4 linked regions of the Homo sapiens genome follow. The protein of the gene in region 1 purifies or fractionates together with the protein of each later gene. This does not show direct contact. Each region holds a gene or a part of one and is shown on either strand. Other genes may lie near its edges. The genes, in order: ABCC2, NDUFA10, TOMM70 and RAB31.

What was found.
Region 2: the proteins of ABCC2 (region 1) and NDUFA10 fractionate together in Homo sapiens (co-fractionation; one large-scale study listed by BioGRID). This does not show direct contact.
Region 3: the proteins of ABCC2 (region 1) and TOMM70 fractionate together in Homo sapiens (co-fractionation; one large-scale study listed by BioGRID). This does not show direct contact.
Region 4: the proteins of ABCC2 (region 1) and RAB31 fractionate together in Homo sapiens (co-fractionation; one large-scale study listed by BioGRID). This does not show direct contact.

Annotation. Positions count from the first base shown.
Region 1 is NC_000010.11:99,784,704-99,789,631, forward strand, and holds part of ABCC2 (ATP-binding cassette sub-family C member 2), read left to right. Parts: coding exon 1-78; intron 79-4,928. UniProt on the Homo sapiens protein: ATP-dependent transporter of the ATP-binding cassette (ABC) family that binds and hydrolyzes ATP to enable active transport of various substrates including many drugs, toxicants and endogenous compound across cell membranes.
Region 2 is NC_000002.12:240,011,832-240,016,759, reverse strand, and holds part of NDUFA10 (NADH dehydrogenase [ubiquinone] 1 alpha subcomplex subunit 10, mitochondrial isoform 1 precursor), read left to right. Parts: intron 1-1,899; coding exon 1,900-2,021; exon of another isoform or gene 2,022-4,928. UniProt on the Homo sapiens protein: Accessory subunit of the mitochondrial membrane respiratory chain NADH dehydrogenase (Complex I), that is believed not to be involved in catalysis. Complex I functions in the transfer of electrons from NADH to the respiratory chain.
Region 3 is NC_000003.12:100,373,049-100,377,976, reverse strand, and holds part of TOMM70 (mitochondrial import receptor subunit TOM70), read left to right. Parts: intron 1-64; coding exon 65-272; intron 273-2,824; coding exon 2,825-2,959; intron 2,960-4,331; coding exon 4,332-4,439; intron 4,440-4,928. UniProt on the Homo sapiens protein: Acts as a receptor of the preprotein translocase complex of the outer mitochondrial membrane (TOM complex). Recognizes and mediates the translocation of mitochondrial preproteins from the cytosol into the mitochondria in a chaperone dependent manner.
Region 4 is NC_000018.10:9,713,984-9,718,911, forward strand, and holds part of RAB31 (ras-related protein Rab-31), read left to right. Parts: intron 1-2,277; exon of another isoform or gene 2,278-2,373; intron 2,374-4,928. UniProt on the Homo sapiens protein: The small GTPases Rab are key regulators of intracellular membrane trafficking, from the formation of transport vesicles to their fusion with membranes.

The sequences.
Region 1 (4,928 bases):
GCCCCCTGGCAGCTTCTCCACGTGTATAAATCCAGGACCAAGAGATCCTCTACCACCAAACTCTATCTTGCTAAGCAGGTAAAGTTAACACCACTGTTTCTGAACTCTAATTCCTTGGTGCACAGTAGAGACATTTTCTTGGTGGTTAGTGTTCTCTTCCTTGTCTTTAAGCAGCTGTCCCAGGTGCCATTGTCTCAGGTAGAGCCAGGCTCAAGGTTTCCCTCACGGGTCCCTTGCTGCATTTCTTAAATCAAAGTGGCTTTGATTTTTGCATAAGAATGGTGACTCTTAATTCTTGTGGATATTGGGTTCCCTAAACACAAAGGGCATATAATCAATCAAATTATCTTTATAGCATTTGAGAAATGAACACTGGATCACCTGTCTTTAAACAGCTCTAATAAATCAGTGGACTGTAATTCAGTTGGCATCTACCTCGTGAAAATGAGCTAGATAATGGATCTCCTGCCCCACTGAGGCAATCCAACTATCACTCATCTTCAAAAACTTGGGTCCGAAATAAGGTTTCCATTTTCCCCGCATATTTGATGAGTCAGGATGATCACTCACAGTAGAAGGAGGAGGGGTAAGTGTGCACAGTGACAAGCACGAGTAGGGAAATAATGGAAAGGACAGGTCTGCGGGAGAGGCCCAGGAGGGGCCAGGAGGGGAGGAGCCCTCAGCCAGCTGCACCAACTCACTCAGGGAAGGGTCTTGTGGGAACCCAAGACCCTCATTCGAGGTTGTAAAATTATCTCATAAAATCTTCCATCTGCTTCTTTTCACTATTTTTTTTTCTATCTCTCCTTATTATCATTATTACTACCATTTTAAATGGAGTCTCACTCTGTTGCCCAGGCTGGAGTGCAGTGGCACTATCTCGGCTCACTGCAACCTCCACCTCCTGGGTTCAAGCAATTCTTATGCCTCAACCCCTCCCGAGTAGCTGGGATTACAGGAGCACGCCACCATGTCCAGCTAATTTTTGTATTTTTAGTAGGGCGGGATTTCGCCATGTTGGCCAGACTGGTCTCGAACTCCTGACCTCAAGTGATCCCTCCTGCCTTGGCCTCCCAAAGTGCTGCGATTACAAGCCTGAGCCACCTGCACAGCCTCTGTCAGTCCTTATCTTTCAACAGGTTTTTAGAAAGGCAAACTAGATTCCATTGTTCTACTAGCATACCTAACAATGACTCAGGTTACCTGGAATCTTAAAGGAGGAAAGAGCTTGGCCAAAGGAAGTGGATTTCACCTTGACACTTTGAGGTTGGGGTTGATCGTGGGTTTTATTAGATTCTGATTCAAAAAAGAACAGTCTCAGAGCTTGGGACAGTGTCACTGTCTCCCTTGTTGACCTGAGTGCCCATCACAGGACCTAGCATGTTTCAAACACTCCCACTGGAATACAACATTTGTTGAATGTTGGTGTTAAATGCATTCTGGGAATAGTGGTTGATTCAAGAGTAGGTTAGAGCTGACCTCAGTGGTACATACCTGTAATCCCAGTTCCTCTGGAAGCTAGAAGTGGTAGGATCACTAGAGGCCAGCCTGGCAACATAGTGAGTCCCCATCTCTTAAAAAAATAAAATAAAATAAAAATAAAAAGGAAAGAAACATATGTTAGACTTTGAACATTCTGAACATTAAACAACTCTGAACATTTAATAACATTCTCAGTACCCTTGGAATTGAGTCATTGTTCGAGGTTAGAAGCAATCAAGTTGGGAGGCTTCTTCTACTTTCTGGAGCTTCCAAGAAGAAGCTGGTTAATGAGCAAACCAATATCCCATCCTAATAAAAGCTATTAGTTAACTCTTTTACAAAATACTTTATTGAGATATAATGTACATACCATACAGTTCTCTCATTTAATACAATTCAGGCCGGATGCTGTGGCTCACGCCTGTAATCCCAACACTTTGGGAGGCCGAGGTGGGTGGATCACTTGAGGTCAAGAGTTTGAGACCAGCTTGGCCAACACAGTGAAACCCCATCTCTACTAAAAATACAAAAACATTCGGCTGGGCATGGTGGCTCACGCTTGTAATCCCAGCACTTTGGGAGGCCGAGGTGGGTGGATCACGAGGTCAGGAGTTCGAGACGAGCCTGGCCAACATGGTGAAACCCCGTCTCTACTAAAAATACAAAAATTAGCCAGGCATGGTGGCGGACGCCTGTAATCCCAGCTACTCAGGAGACTGAGGCAGAGAATTGCTTGAACCTGGGAGGTGGAGGTTGCAGTGAGCTGAGATCATGCCACTGCACTCCAGCCTGGGTGACAGAGCAAGACTCCGTCTCAAAAAAAAAAAAAAAAATTAGCCTGGTGCAGTGGCACACACCTGTAACCCCAGCTACTCAGGTGGCTGAGGCATAAGGATCACTTGAACCCGGGAGGTGGAGGTTACAGTGAGCCAAGATCGTGCCACTGCACTCCAGCTTCAGACTCTGTCTCAAAAAAAAAAAAAATGCAATTCAGTTTTTTTCAGTATATTAACACATATGTGCAACCATCACCACAGTCAATTTTAGAACATTTCATTATCTTTAACCCCGTCTCCTCCTTCCCCTTATCCTTAGCAACCGCTAAATCTCTTTTCTGTCTTTATAGATTTCCCTGTTCTAGACATTTCATATGAATGGAATTATATAATATGGTTCTTTTTTGATTGGCTTCTTTCACTTAGCACAATGTGTTCAAGGTTTATCTATGCTGTACCATTGCTATACCATGTATTGATATTTTACCCCTTTTTTTGGGGGGACGGAGTCTCGTTCTGTCGCCCAGGCAGGCTGCCAGCATAGATTCCTGCCAACAGTGTGTTAAAGTGCATGTCCTTGCACCATTGTCAGCATTGAGTTATTTTCAACTTTTATGTGTAAACATGACATCTCACTGAGTTGCTTTGCATTTTTATGAATACTAACGCAATTGTTTTTTTAATTTGTTAAGTGTATTTCATTTGCGAATTGTCTGTTCATATCACTTCCTTATTTTTTAATGGGGGTGTGAGTGTATTTAACTTATCTTTTGAACGGATAATTCTCAGAGGATCACAAAGTTCAAAAAGTACAAAAGGAGCTGGGCATAGTAGCTCATGCCTGTAATCCCAACACTTTGGGAAGCTGAAGTGGGAGAATTGCTTGAGCCCAGCATTTCGAGACCAGCCTGGCCAACTTGGTGAGACCGATCTCTACAAAAAATTAAAAAAATTCACCAGGCATGGTGGCATGTGCCTGTGGTCCCAGCTACTCGGGAGGCTGAGGTGGGAAGATCACTTGACAAGTTCAAGGAGGTCAAGGCTGCAGTGAGCCATGTTCACACCACTGCACTTCAGCCTGGGCGACAGAGGTAGACCCTGTCTCAAAAAAAAAAAGAAAAAAAAGGACAAAAGGGTACCCAGTACTCTAGTCACTCATTCATGTCTTAGTTGGCAACCATTGATACCAGTTCCTCATATCTCCTTCCAGAAATAGCCTGTGCTTTTACAAACAGCTACGTACATATATTTTTTCACACAAATGCTAGCGTCCCATATGTGCTTTTCTGTGTCTTAGAGCTCCTTCCATTTTAGCACATAAAAATCTGCATTTTTCTCTCTTTTTGTGGATATTTTATTCATTTGTACCTAAGCAGCCAAACTCGTACTGATACCACCATGCAGCCAAGGTTACTGAAACCTCTTTGATTAGACTTCAGTCATATCCCACCCCCAAATAGACCCAATAGGTACAATGAAAACCAGTATATCAAGGCAGAATACAGAGCTGTAAAACAAGAAAAATCCTATGAGGGAGGGAGGGAAAAAGGAAGAATTCCGCCACTACCCAGACTAAAATCGAGTTAATATATTCATCTCCACACGTTTTCAGGCTGCATGTTCATGGAGTAATTTAGGAATAAACCTATGATTTGTGAAGCACTGAAATACTTAGTGGTTTGCTGTATTACATCATAGCTTTCCCCAGCAGTTTCCAAGACAGCTTCCAAAAACTGGCAGGAGAATTTCGCTGGAGCTGCATGCAGGACTACCAAGATTCCTCCCCACAGTTATGAAACCGATTTTTCCGGGACTGGTTGTTCTAGTCTTCTGGGTGCCAAGTCTGACTTTTCTGGGAATGGTTGATCCACACTGGAAGGTTTCCAGATGTGTTCCCCAGGCATTCCTGGTGGTAGGAAGAGTAGAGGCCTGGGTATTCTGTAGATGCTGAGCCCTGAGTCATATTGTTGCTTATTCTTTGGTCAGTTGGCTTTCTACCACCTCTTAGCTTTCATTCTCTGTAACTAGCTTGTATGCTGTTTGTAGCTAAGATTCAGGGTATTGGAAAGTTCTTGCAGCTGCTGGAGGCTGCGGTGTTTCTGTCTCTGAAATCCATCATTAATTACACACAGCTGGGCCGGAGAGAACATGATTCTGGTCTTCTGTTTCTTCTCCTGGATCTTATCTTCATTCTTCACTGTGCTCTTCTCTGCAGAAATGTGTAGTTTTACTCTGGGACTAGTGGAAGAATTAGAGCTTTCCTGAATAAATAGATCCACGGAGGAAGGAAGATGAGAGAGCCTCTGAGTGGGACACCTCCTCATATGTCATTTGCAAGGATGGATAACTTTCATCAGGGCCACGAGTCACAGGCATTGGTGAAAGAGTCCCTAGAATTGGATGCTTTAGAATAAGGCAGGCTTTGGAGACAAGCTGGACTCACACTCATGTTATTGAAAAGGAGCGGGGAGGGGCGGGTGCAGTGGCTCACGTCTGTAATCCCAGCACTTTGGGAGGCTGAGGTGGGTGGATCACCTGAGGTCAGAAGTTCAAGATCAGTCTGGGCAACATGGTGAAACCCCATCTCTACTAAAAATACAAAAATTAGCCGGGCATAATGGTTCACACCTGTAATCCCATCTCCTTGGGAGGCTGAGGCAGGAGAATCAC
Region 2 (4,928 bases), on another chromosome or scaffold:
CAGCACTGACCGTGAGCATGCTTTCCTTGGGAAAGCCCAAGGGGTGATGGGGGAGGGCTGAGACCAGATCCTTTGGGGACCATTTCTGGGGTGATGAGACCCCCACTGAGGGATTGAAGCTGAATGATCAGAGGTGCACAGGAGGAAGCAGAGGGGATGTGGGGAGGGTTGGTTGTTGGTGTCACATGTGCTGTGACTCTGATGGGAACTGAGAAGTGACTGTCACGTTTCACCTTTCGGGGGCTGGTGATGTTAGCCAGAGTCGTTTGAGTGCTGGGCTGGGGGAAAGCAGATCATGTTGGCTAAAGGACAGGTGGCATAGAGCAAGGTGGGGACCACCTGAGAAGTGGGTGTACTGACAGGAGTAAGGGTGAGGGTGGGAAGCAGGGTGAGAGCAGACTCGGTGAAGGGAGGTTTCACCTCAGCAGCAGGAGAGACCGGCCTGCTACCGGTCCAGCAGTCAGGAAGCAGACCCGAGGTCCCGTGTGCTCTGCCTGGCTGCGGGTTTGTGTTTGTATGCTCAGGTGAACGGTACTCCACTGGCAGCCTCCGTCCTTTGCTTTGTCACACCTCCTCCTGGGTGGTCTTCCTTGTTCTTTAGCTCGTGCCGTTCCTGACCCTGAGCCAAAGGCTCATCCCACAGTTGCCTCTAGAGTGAGGTTACTAGGAATGCTCACTGGAACTTTTTTTTTTAATTTAATTTTTAAAATTTTTATTTATTTATTTTGAGACTAGGTTAGGAGACTGGCTAATGTTTGTATTTTTGGTAGACATGGGATTTCACCATGCTGCTCAGGCTGGTCCTGAACTCCTGGGCTCCAGTGATCTGCGCCCACCTCGGCCTCCCAAAGTGCCAGGATGACAGGCGTGAGCCACTGTGCCCAGCCCATTTCCTTTAAAGCAAAATAGTTGTCTTTCTGTGGACCCTAGCATGGCCATCTGTCACTTCTGGAAGGTTCCACACGTGAAAAGCTGCAGAGGGGATGGCTTCTCAGCATGGCCTCTCCACATGCACTGGCGTGCACTCTCTGTTGGCTTCTGGGAGGTCGGGTGTGCATGAGCATGTGCAGGTGCAGAGTGCTCTGAAGAGCGGCAGGGTTCCCTTGGGTGGCACGGGCCCTGCGGGTGCCCCCTGGATTATGCATTCTGTGTAGTGATCACTTTAGGAGAATTATTCCTCAGCCTTAGCTGCTTTCAATTTCATGTTGTCACTAAATCTGACTCAGTAGATACTTCTGTGCAGCTGATTATACTACTGAAACGGGATAAATGCAGCTTGATGATTTTCAGCTGAGTTATTTGAAAAATAAAGTATTTAAAGCTGTTCTTTATTCTTCAGAGAAGACCAGACTCTTGTATCTATTATTACTGTGAAGAAATATAGTAGCATGTATACTATATACCTGCAACATATATACTGCAAGTATATGGAATATATTTCAGTTCAAAGATCACTGAACTGTGACCTCCATCTTGCGTGACCTACGTCTTGCCTCAGGAGCAAAAGTGAACCCTTAAATGTGGCTAAGATGTGCTAAAGATCTGTCTTTTAGGATGATTAAGGTCACAGTTTAAATGCTGCTGTTTTACTCTGTGTAAGTAGCTTAATTTCTCTGGGCCTCAGACCTTTGGTTTGTAAATACAGTGGAGGCGACAAGCCCTGTTTTCAGGGTTGTGGGCACCACAGCTGCTGTCTGCACATGCCCCGTGGCACCTGGAGCACAGTCACATGCCATGTGTGTGGTCAGTGCTTAGAACTGTGACCGAGATAGGGTTTGTAGATTGGTACGTGGCTTTGAGAATTGCGTGTATGTTTGCCCTTTTATTCAAGGAGGAGTGTGTTTTGGAAACCCGTGTGGGGACTGGTAGGTGACAGCGCCCCTTTCTCCTATGTGCCAGGTGTGGACCACTACAACGAGGTGAAGAGCGTCACCATCTGCGATTACCTGCCCCCCCACCTGGTGATTTACATCGATGTGCCCGTTCCAGAGGTCCAGAGGCGGATTCAGAAGAAAGGAGATGTAATGCAGTTTTCAATCAAAGGCCAAGCATCTCTATTTTGAATGTAGATCAGCACTAAAAGCCCTGTTTTAATAGCATTTATACTAATTCCTACCAGTCCTCACGAGGAGGGTGACACACACCCTGTTCCCACTTGAGAGAGGGCATCTGCAGGGGTGGAGGGGAGACCCCATGGCTCGGCCTGGTGCCACAGCCTGCGGGCCTGCCGCCCACCAGTGCTCTGCGGTCCCACTGTGGTCCCCGAGTCCCCTCAGCTGTTTAAACTTGGGAGGCTGGTGAGGGCCTCCTGGCAGAGCGTCCTCCATCCCTCTGTCACGTACCTTTCTGTTCTCTGATGAGGTTTTTGTGTCCTATCGTTTTCTTCCACATTGGAAGCAATTTCTAATATCCCTCATCACTTCAATCTATTTAACGCAAATCGTGCCTCTCCCCCTTTTTCTTACTTACCAATTCTAGAACAGTAGAGCAGTGATATCCACACACATCCATTTACTCTTTGTAGTTTTCATTGGATCTTAATTAGGTGGCCTCGAAGCAACGCCTTTTGAAGTGACCCTGTGGCCGTTGGTAGCTCTGTTGGCGGCTTGATGGAGGATCCTGAGATGAAACAAAGACCGTCTTTGCCCTGTGGCGAGTTCTTTGTTTTTTTTTTTTGAGACAGAGTCTCGCTCTGTCACCCAGGCTGGAGTGCAGTGGCACGATCTCGGCTCACTGCAAGCTCCGCCTCCCGGGTTCACGCCATTCTCCTGCCTCAGCCTCCCAAGTAGCTGGGACTACAGGCGCACGCCACCATGCCCGGCTAATTTTTTTGTATTTTTAGTAGAGACGGGGTTTCACTGCTTGTTTAATACTATGTTATTTTTTCCTGGAGGAGAATATGGTCTCCTTTTTGATACTGTGATGAAAATGCAGGGCTACCTGCCTGTTCCTCACTCTGATGCCCATCCTCAGTGCCGGAATTCTTGTAGGTGCTCAGGAAATACCTCTCTGGATGGTGGGTTCTTGTCAGGGCAACAGTAAAGCTCTGGTTATTTTTTGCTGCTCCTGAAAGATCCATGGGACTAACTTTCCTTCTCTGTTGCAATAGTAGAAACAGCGAGATGTCTATGTATGCCTTTCTATTGCCACTCTGGAACTTTTATTGTTTAAGCATATGCTTGTAAGTATGTTGTATAGCTAGACTTCTAAGAACCTTCCATCAAGTGGCAAAAGGAGGGAACTGCAAGTTCAAAATGTTTGTTTCTCAGTGGACTAACTGGACACCTTTGCTTATTATGCTGACATTTATTGAGAAAAACAAAGTCATACATTTAACATTCTCTAGATAATTCTTTTGTTATCTGGGAAAACAGTATTTCAAAAATAATTCTGAGGTCTAAAGTAGAGCTGTCAACTTCTTAATTTTTCCAAGTAAAGTCTTCAATACTGTCATCAGGTAAAATTACCCCATTTTATAAAAGACATCACATTATCAGTAAGTCTGTGTTCTTATTTTGATTTTTATTTCAATGCAGTCTGTGTCTCAGTATTGCACCTTTTGGGAATAACTGATAGGAATATCCGAAAACCATTTCTAGATTCTAAGAAAACAGTCAAAGTGATCAATAACTACATATTTTATCAAGTAACTTCAGGTCAGATTTCTGAGATGGTTGTGTTATGTTGCATGTTATGGGCTTATATTACACTAGAGTTTCTTTTATAATCAGTTAACATTTAATCTTATTCTACTTGGCACATAGCTAATGATAGAGATTTAGAATCATATCACCTCTTTTATACTTTTGTTGATTTCACTCACTCCTCTAATACAGAGCACCTCCTATATGCAAGGCGCCTGTGCCAGGCACCTAGGAGGCTGCAAAGATGAACAAAGATGGTCTCTGCCCAGACACCAAGTCCTTATTGGAAAATAGAACTCCCAATTACTGCCTTTCCCCCTTTTGACAGAGCAATGAAGTGCAGCATTGCCTGTATCATCCTTTCCCTGTGCCCCGTCGCATTACTGGAATTAATACATGTTCAGTAAATATTCTTTGAATGATAGGGTTTTTCTTATTTTGAACAGCTTTAATGAGGTATAATTTATGCTCCATAAAATTCACCCATTTTAAGGGTACGACTGAATGATTTTGGGTAAATTTACCAAGTTGTTGCCACTCTTGCCATAATCCAGTTTTAGAATGTTTTCATCATTTTGTAGGTTGAAACCGCAGGCCTATTCATTTCTTTCTTCCTTCCTCTCTCTCCTGTAAGTGTTGATTGAGCATCCACCCTGTCCTAGACCCTGCTTGGTGCTAGGGACATACCAGTGAGCAGGGTGGATGAGGTCCTCACCCGTGAGCTCATATGCTGATGGGGGAGACCTACAGCAAGCAAGGAGATAAATAAATACATCAAATAGAGGTAAATGATGTGAAGAAAACAAAACGGGCTGAGAAGATAGTGTGAGACTGTAAGGAGTTTTAAATTTTAAAACTTGCTACTCATAATTAGATATTCAAGTTTCTGAAATTCGCATAGTGCATTTCAGATGATGAGAGAGGTGACAGCCGTAGAAAGTGGGAGAAGTGGTTGCGGGGAGATGGGTGAGCGATGGAGGTGGCGAGCAAGTTGGAGAGATGCAGGGAGAGTCAGGTGACAAGAAGAGAGTGTGCTGAGGACAGATGGCGGACAGACAGGCCGCTGCCCCCAATTTTTGGTGCTCTTTCATTCCTGCACTCAGGCACGAGGCAGACAGGAAAGACAGGCAGTGCTGCTTCGTAACAGGCATCTTTCTTGCCCTAAGTATACATCTTAGAATGTGTGGAGAAAGTCACGCTATGGGAGCACTTGGGCAGGCTCAGGTGTTCACTGTAGTAGAAGGAGAATGACTCTAGCTGATGTTGGGACCCTTTGCTGTCACC
Region 3 (4,928 bases), on another chromosome or scaffold:
CCACACCCAGCCACATTTAATTTTTTCTTAGTAAATAATTTCCTATGTTTGTTTTTATTTTCAGTTCTGGATACTTAAAGGCCAAACAGTATATGGAAGAAGAAAACTACGATAAAATCATAAGTGAATGCTCAAAAGAAATAGATGCTGAAGGCAAATACATGGCAGAAGCATTGCTACTACGAGCTACCTTCTACCTGCTTATTGGCAATGCCAATGCAGCCAAACCAGATTTAGATAAAGTCATCAGTTTGAAAGAAGCTAATGTGAAGGTACATTAAAAAATGTGTGTGAAGAAATTATTAAATAGAAGGCGATGCCTTTCATTATGTTTTGCCAGATTTTTTAAAGCATTTCAACTGCCATTCTTCAAAGGGCTGTTTTTGTTTTTGAAGAAACTACTCTTAATAATAATGTAGTTGGTGCAGTGAATCTGAAAACATAAATATCAATGATATTTATCTTTATTTAGGAAAGGAAATTTTTTTTTCCTATAGCATCCGGTAGTTTCATCGTCTCCCTGTAGCCACTGCCTACCATATTGGACTGTATTTGGGCAGTGGTAAAGGTGATATGCAATTCTGTAGATAATGCTGTCAGTAACGTGTAATATGTAGCACCAGGTTATAAAACACTTAATAAAAACACATTAATATATTCAGAAAGGTTCTAAAAATAGAATGTATAAATATGCCAAAAGTCTTGCAGTTGTACAGTTGGAACAGCCTTTCATTTTCTAAGTATTCTTAATGTGCTATGTATTACACATTTCATAATTAAGATTCAGGGGCATCTGTTGAATTGTTACATTCTATTCAGTGTAACAAAACAATTTAACCACCAATTAACTATATTACTTATTAGTTTGTTAACATCTCTGTGACCTGTTTCCTCATTGCATTAAATGAACTCTGTAGCCTCTCTCCTCTCCTATATTTGGGGGGGATATAAAAGTTGTTTTAAGACCTAAATATTGTTAAAAGTTTCTTTCAAAATGAGATTTTCAAATTGAAGATACCCTCATAATATTATCTTTAATATTATTTTCTGCTGATTTTCCTGATGATTACAACTGATATATGTTATATGTTTTTGTTATAATTGTGGAGGATGTTATTATTTGTTCTATATGTATGTAGTATTGCTTTGAACAAAATTTTAAAGAAACGCATTGTTTTCATGATCACATGACTTTTAGTGGCAAGTAGTAATGATGCCTACCATATGCCATGCACAAAAATTAACTCAAAATGGATTAGAGCCCTAAATGTAAGAGCTAAAACTATAAAACTGTTAGGATAAAATAGAGGACTAAATGTTTGTTACCTTAGATAAGCAGCAGTTTCTTAGATATGGCACCAAAAGCACAAGCAACCAAAAAAAAAAAATAGATTGGACGTGATCAGACTTCTGTGCTTGGCTGGGGTGGTGGCTCATGCCTGAAAATTAGCCGGGCATGATGGCATGTGCATGTAGTCATAGCTACTCAGGAGGCTGAGATGGGAGGATCACCTGTACCTGGGAGGTCAAGTCTGCGGTGAGCCGTGACTTGTGCCACTGTACTCCAGCCTGGGTGACAGAGATCCTGTCTCAAAAAAAAAAAAAAACTTCTGTGTGAAAAGACACCATCAAGAAGGAGAAAACACATCACACAACATGGGAAAAATATTCACAAATCATATATCTGATTAGGAGCTTGTATCCAGAATAAAGAACTCTTAGAGCTCAACAATAAAAAGACAACCTAAGTTAAAAATGGGCAAAGGATCTGAATACACATTTCTCCAAAGAATATACAAATGACCAATAATAAATGACAAGATTGTTGGCATCATTAGCCATTAGGGAAATGCAAACCAAAACCACCATGAGATGCCACTTCACACCTACTAGGATGGCTATAATCAAAAAGACAATAAGGCTCTAATAAAAAACATTGGACAATAATAAGTGTTTTTGAAGATGTGGAAAATTGGAACCCTCATACATTGCTGGTGGAAATATATTAATACAATGGTGAAGCCCTTTTGGAAATTAGTTTGGCAATTCCTCAGAAACTTACCATATGATCTAGTAATTCCACTCCTAGGTATATACCCAAGAGAATTTAATACGTTCGTTAACACAAAAACTTGTACATGAGAGCTGGGTGTGGAGGCTCACACCTGTAATCCCAGCACTTTGGAAACCCAGGAGTTCTAGACTACCCTGGGTAACGTAGCAAAATCTCATCTCTATTTTTAAAAAGCTTTTTTAAAAACCTTGTATGTGAATGTTCATAGCAGCATTATTTATGGTAGCCAAAAAGTGGAAGCAGCTCAAATGTCCATCAGTTGATGAATGGATAAATAAAATGTGATATCTGTACAATGGAATATTTTTCAGGCATAACAAAAGAATGAAAAACTGATACATGCTACAATATGGATGAACCTTGAAAACATTATGCTAAATCAAAGAAGCCAGACACAAAAGGCTATATATAATGTATGATTCCACTTACATGAAACATCCAGAATATACAAATCCATAGAAATAGAAAATAGGTTGGTGTTTTCTAGGGGCTGAAGAGTAGGAGGTGAGGGGGATGGAGAGTGACTGCTTATTTGTATGTGGTTTCTTTTAAGGGTGATGAAAATGTTCTGGAATTAGATAGTGGTAATCAACACACAACTTAGTGAATACACTAAAAACAGGTGACATGCATACTTTAAAAGGGTGACCTTTGTGATATGTGGATTATAGAAAAAAGCTGTTATTTAAAGAAACTAGATTGGAGGGAAAAAAAAGTAATGATGAACCTTTCCTCACTTGGGGTATATAGCTTCGAGCAAATGCTCTCATCAAAAGAGGCAGCATGTACATGCAACAGCAGCAGCCTTTGCTGTCCACTCAAGATTTTAACATGGCTGCTGACATCGATCCTCAGAATGCAGATGTTTATCACCACCGAGGACAGGTAAGTCTGTTTTCTTACCTAGAGGTCTGACTTGTGGATTGAGCTTTGATACCATTTTTGAGAATTTCTTATGTAATTTTCTTGAGTTTTCTTATATAATTTCTGATAGCTGTGAACAAAGTATCACAGTGGTTTACAGTTTGAATTGGCCTTTGTTTAGTCTGTCTTGAATATTTGTCTTTAATTTTGGTATTTACTTATGAAAAAAGAGTAAAGGAAGGCAAAAACTGTTGGCTTACCAGTTCAAGTTTGTTTTTCTGGTGTTTCTGGTTCATAGGTTTCAATGAGTAAAACATTAATAACATTTAGTAAGCAATGTGAGTTAATTCTAGAATCAACAGGATGATTTTTGTGAGCTTCTTGCTATAAGGAAATAGTCTGGACTGTCCAAATAGTAAAAATAAATATATTTATCTTTTGAAGTTTTATAACAGGCATATTAGTTTTTTAGTAGAAATATATAGTGAAGAAACAGTTTCCAATTACTGCCTCAAGTGGGGAAAACATGGCTTTATAATCAGCTTAACATGGCTTCTTGGAATGCATTATGGTATAAAGTGTGAGCTATGCATTAATAATAACAGAAGAGCCGAAGTTCTTTCTAATGGAGAATTTTACCTAATAGGGTCATGTGTCCTGCCAGGGAAGTGCATTATTAGGCGATTTTGTTGTGTGGACATCATAGAGTGTACTTCTACAGACCTAGATGGTATAGCCTACTACACACCTAAGCTGTATGTTGTAGCCTGTTGCTCCTAAGCTACAAACGTGTATAGCATGTTACTATACCAAATATTATAGGCAGTTATAACACAATGGTAAGTATCTGTGTGTCTAAAACATATCTAAACATAGAAAAGGTACAGTAAAAATGCAGTATTACAATCTTTTGGGACCACTGTTGTATATGTGGTCTGTTGATTGAAATGTAAATATGCATGACTGTATTTCTTTCAGAAGGGTGTTAAGTGTTGAGATAACCTCTTAAAATTCTTGACATTTTGATCTTTACTGGTAGTGTCTGAAGATTAATTTGAAAGGTAATTATCTGATGTCTAACCTGCTTTGATATTAGAATGTACAGGATGTTTAGTTTTCTAGAAGAAGGGGTTTCTTGCTTAATAGTGATCAGAATTGCAGGGCAGAAATGGTTGGCTTGTAGTCCTTTCTATAAGTTGGATACCATTTTTATGTTTTGGAATCTTGCCTTTTAAATTTCAAGATTTTTAAATCACTGTTTCTAGAAAGTAATTATATATTGAATTACTACTACATGCTCAGCATTATGCTGAGGTGTAATAATAGAGATGAGACACTGAACATACTTAACTGGACTAGTTGAATTACATTTATTTACGTATTTTTTTCTTAGCTGAAAATACTCCTTGATCAAGTTGAAGAAGCAGTGGCAGATTTTGATGAATGTATTAGGTTAAGACCTGAGTCTGCTCTGGCACAAGCACAGAAATGTTTTGCATTGGTAGGTACTACTTTCTTTTGTATTTTCCTAAACATCACTTTTATTTTCCAGCGTCAACAAAAATGAGTATCTCATTGTCTACAAAGTCGTCTTTTTCTTTCTTTCCCAAAGGATAACTACTGAGGAAAAAAGGTGCTGATTGATACCTAGCTCTTGTATTTCTCTGGACATTTGTTTGGGTTCATCTTGATAGATGTTTGTCCCTGATTTTATACTTCCCTAAACAGAACTGGTCTCCCTGCTTCATCATAAATCAATATAAAGAGCAAAAACATTTTGAGGAAACACTCTGTAAACATGACACCATGTAACTTGCTCTCTCACCCCTGCTTCATAGAACTGTTTCTTAATATTCAGAAACACAAAGCTCAAAAGGTTGTTTTTTTTTTTTTTTTAAGTAAAAATTTTTCTAGTAAAATAAGATACTTCCAGTTAGCTGTATGGCTGGAGTCGTAAAAGAATTTTCAGTTTAAAGGAAGAAATTATGTC
Region 4 (4,928 bases), on another chromosome or scaffold:
TGGAGGTTAGGCTTCAAAATGGGAATTTTGTTGGAGGGACACAAATATTAATTCCATAGTACCTTGTCAATAGTGTTCAGGCATGTGGCCTCTACTTTTGCCCTGGCCCAATGACACTGTTTTAGTGAGTGTGATATATCCTTTAGGTCTGCTCTAAGGCCACAGCCATGAGAAAATAGGAAACTTTACATTTTAAGATGCTAGGACAGTGGTCCCCAACCTTTTTGGCACTAGGGATCAGTTTTGTGGAAGACGATTTTTCCACAGATGGGAGCAGGAGGCGGGGGATGGTTTTAGGATGAAACTGTTCCACGTCAGATCATCAGGCATTAGTTAGATTCTCATGAGGAGCATGCAACTTAGATCCCTCACATGCGCAGTTCACAACAGGGTTTGCACTCCTGTGAGAATCTAATGTCACCATTGATTTGACAGGAGGCAGAGCTCAGCTGGTAATGCTCACTCACTGTTCACCTCCTGCTGTGCAACCTGGTTCCTAACAAGCCATGGGTCAGTACCGCCCCAGGGGTTGGGGACCTCTGTGCTAGAACGCAAAAGCTTTTGAGTTCACTAATTGGAAAAGACCTTTAAAATTTAATTAAGCCTGGTAGATAACGCTTATTTGGTGTTTGCATGCCTGTGCAGATTTTACACTTTCATTTATCTTAGTTTTTATCACTTATGACATGTGTTTGAAAATGGAATAGGTATTCATTCATTCAGCCATTCACCATTTGTGGAGTGTTTCTTTTATGCTGGGAGCTGTGGGTGGCTGCATGTAGACAGGATGGCAGTGATTGTTGCCTTCCCAAAGACACGAACACACCAGCAGTGAGCTCTGTGGCATTGACTGGATTCTTATTATGGTGCTTACCATGGCCCACCATGCGGAACAGAAGTAGTGTGTTGTGATGATGAGAAATACTGACTGTCATCCCGCTTAGTAGACTTGACGGCATGGGAGGGACAGAAAGTTCTTGCTCCAGGTCTGTCTTGGGTACCTGCTGTCGCACAGTGCTGTGCTAACTCTGCTAGAGACAGAAAGTAGGTCAGGCAGGGATCTGGTCCCTGCCTGGGATGGAGAGGCTTCTGGTTGGTTCCTGTGCCACACGCACAGGAACACGGCCCTTGCTGATGGGTGTGAGGCAGGAGGTGTTGCATGTATAGTGGGATATGGTGGGAGTCAAATACAGCGGGGGCTGTGAAGTGGGGAGTTGGGAAGGTTTCTTGGAGTAGGAAGGATTTGAACAGTGCCTAAAGGGACAGGGAAGGAAAGGTGGGTGTGCACTCCAGGCCCTGGCAGGGGGCTTGGATCTCACTGTATTTTCTGGCACAGTCCCTCCCCTCCCAGCCTGCCCACTCTTCCATTGACACCCCCTACTCCCTGTCTCTCTAGCACTGGGTCTTTTATTTTTAATTCCCTTTGCCCCCTTTTTTTTTTTTTGAAAAATTTAAAACTTACACAGCAGTTGAAAGGACTATGAATGTCCCCTAGATTCAGCAGGAGTAACATTTTGTCACTTGTCCTTTGTCTCTCTCTCTCTCTTTTTTTTTTTTTTTTTTTGACATGGAGTCTCGCTCTGTCAACCAGCCTGGGGTGCAGTGGCACAATCTCGGCTCACTGCAACCTCCACCTCCTGGGTTCAAGCGATTCTCTTGCCTCAGTCTCCTGAGTAGCTGAAATCACAAGTGTGCAACACCATGCCCAGCTAATTTTTGTATTTTTTTTAGTAGAGATGGCGTTTCACCACGTTGGCCGGCTGGTCTCGAACTCCTGGCCTCAAGCAATCTGCCTGCCTTGACCTCCCAAAGTGTTGGGATTACAGGCGTGAGCCACTGTGCCCAGCCTGTCTTTCTGTTTATAAATAATACTAAACATTTTTTTTTGAACCATTTAAAAGTAAGTTGCAGACATGGTGGCACTTTACCCACAAATACTTCAGTATGTGTCTTTTAGGAAAAAGGGCATTCTCCTATGTAACCACAATACTATGCTCCCATCCCCTAAATTGAACATGAACACAGGGTATCAAACATATGGTCCATGTTCAGATGTTTCCAGTTGCCCCCAAATGTCCTTTCCAGCTATTTAAAGGGTCCAGTTAGAGATCATGTATTTCATTTGGTTGTCCTGTCTCTTTAGTCACTGTGCATCTAAAACAGTTCCCCTTCTTTTTTCCCCATGACTCTGGCATTTTTGAAGAAGCCAGGCCAGTTGTCTTGTAGGCGGTCCCAAGATCTGGAAGTGTCTGATTGTTTCCTCATTACTTCTTTCAGGTTCATTGTTTGGGTGAGAATACAACGCAGGCGATCTCGAGTGGTCTTATTTTTTAACGTGATCATGTATAATATTAAAATACTCTTTCCCACTTATCTCTGTGGCATTTATTTAAAAAAATTTCTTAGCTTCTGCAAGTGTCAGGCAGTGGTGTGTCTGACACAGAACTTTGACCTCTTGGAGCCTACATTTTAGCAGGAAGGTAGGGAAAATAAATCATATGGTCTGTTAGGAGGTGGTATGTGCTTTATGGGAAAAGAAGGCAAGAGGTGGGAGTGGGCTGGCGGGGGTGACAATTGAGTGTGCTCAGTGTCTTCAGAGCCCAGGATGGAGGCGTCTGCCTCTTATTTACCCGGGGATTGACGCTGGTCCTACAGCTTCCTCCTGTGGTAAGCTGCTGAGCTGTGGAGAGGAGAGTATGTCCTGAGGAGCCAGAGTGGTCTTTTTTGTTACCTAACTTTGTCAGCAGAAATGAGGAAAAGAAAAATGGAATTTTTATTTGAGACGGAGTCTTGCTCTGTCACCCAGGCTGGAATGCAGTGGTGTGATCATAACTCATTATAGCCTCGAACTCCTGGGCTCAAGTGATCCTCCTGCCTCAGCTTCCTGAGTAGCTGGGACTACAGGCGTGCCACCACACTTGGCTAATTTTCTTTCTTTCTTTCTTTCTTTTTTTTTTGGTAGAGATGGGGTCTTGCTGTGTTGTCCAGGCTAGTCTTGAATTCATGGGCTCAAGCGATCCTCCCACTTCAGCCTCCCCAAAAATATTGGGATTACAGGTGTGAGTCACTTTGCCCAGCCAAAAAGTGGGCTTCTTTTTTGTTTTTTTGTTTTTTGAGACAGGGTCTTACTCTGTCATCCAGGCTGGAGTGCAATGGTGCGATCACAGCTCACTGCAGCCTCAACCTCCCAGTCTCAAGTGATCCTCCTGCTTCCGAAAAGTCGGATTTAACATCAGGTCACCAAATGGGTTTTTCACTGTGGGATCTTTTGATGAGTTTTTTTCGAATACATTTCCTTGGTTTAGATGTCTCAGACCTGCTTGAATTCTCTAGAAGTCATGAATGTGGCTTCTGTTTGCACCATATTTAACCCAGAAGATATCTTAGGCTACTTTCAGTTCCCCCAGAGGTGCCTAGGAGACTCGAGTTATCAGAAAATTGAAGGGGCCTGCAGGACAGCAAACAGAACACAGGGAGGTCATTTCCCTTCTATTTTCTCTTCTTTGAACAGGATGTCACAGAGAGCTAGATGCCTTTCTATCAATGTATTTTTTTTTGAAGAAAAGGATACCTGCATTCTCCAGGACTACTCTCTGCCTTCATGGAATCACTTTCCTAACTAGGATCTGCAAATATAATGTGTCGCTCTGGGAGGGAAGGACAGAGGGAGAAAGTGGAGAGAAGAAGAGAGAAAGAGGAGAAGAGAAGAAGAAAGACAGAGAGACACGCACGTACACACACAGACACACGTACACACAGTATGTGGAGTATCACATAAAATTTGCCCACTGCTGGCAAGGAGAAAGAGCAAGGTGTTCTTGTGTGTTTGTTTGTTTTTTAAATAATCAGATTATTGGCCAGGGCATTTACATTTATGGCAAGGTTAATTAAGAAAGTTTTATTTATTTACTTTTTATTTATTTTATTTACTTTTTTTGAGACCGGGTCTTGCCCAGGCTGGAGTGCAGTGGTGCAATCACAGCTCACTGCAGCCTTGACCTCCCGGGTTCAAGCAATGCTTCTACCTCAGCCTCCCGAGTAGCTGGGACTATAGGTGCCCACCACCACACTTGGATAATTTTTTTGGTTTCTTTTGTAGAGATGGGGCTTGCCACGTTGCCCAGGCTGGTCTTGAACTCCTGGGCTCAAGTGATCCACCTGCCTCAGCCTCCCAAAGTGCTGGGATTAGAAAGTGTTTTTTAAAGTTCATCTCATGGCATCAATACTACGTAGTTAATTTATACTTCATTTTAGCAGCTAAAATATTTTCTGAATTTTTTTGTTTGTTTGTTTGAGATGGAGTTTTGCTTTTGTTACCAAGGCTGGAGTGCAGTGGTGTGATCTCGACTCACTGCAGCCTCTGCCTCCTGGGTTCAAGCAGTTCTCTTGCGTCAGCCTCCCAAGTAGCTGGGATTACAGGCATGCGCCACCATGCCTGGCTAATTTTGTATTTTTAGTAGAGATGGGGTTTCACTATGTTGGTCAGGCTGGTCTTGAACTCTTGACCTCAGGTGACCCACCTGCCTCGGCCTCCCAAAGTGCTGGGATTACAGGCATGAGCCACTGCAACCAGCCTTATTTTCTGAACTTTCATAATAAACTTCTAAAGAGCTAATTTTTTAAATTATCAAGTAGTTTAGTCTTTTTGGGCTGTTATAGTAAAGCACCATAGACTGGGGGCTGAAAAACAACAGAAATGTATTTCCTTCAGTTCTGGAGGCTGAAAGTCCACCATCAGGGTGCCAATACGGGCAGGTTCTGGTGAGGGCTCTCTAAGGGGTTGCAGACTGAGTCTTCCCATTGGGTAAGGGAGCTCCCTGGGGCCTCTTCCATAAGGGCACTAATCCCATTCATGAGAGCTCTAGCCTTCTGACCTAATCACCTTCCAAAGGCTCTACCTCCTAGTATTGTCACTTTGGAGGTCAGGA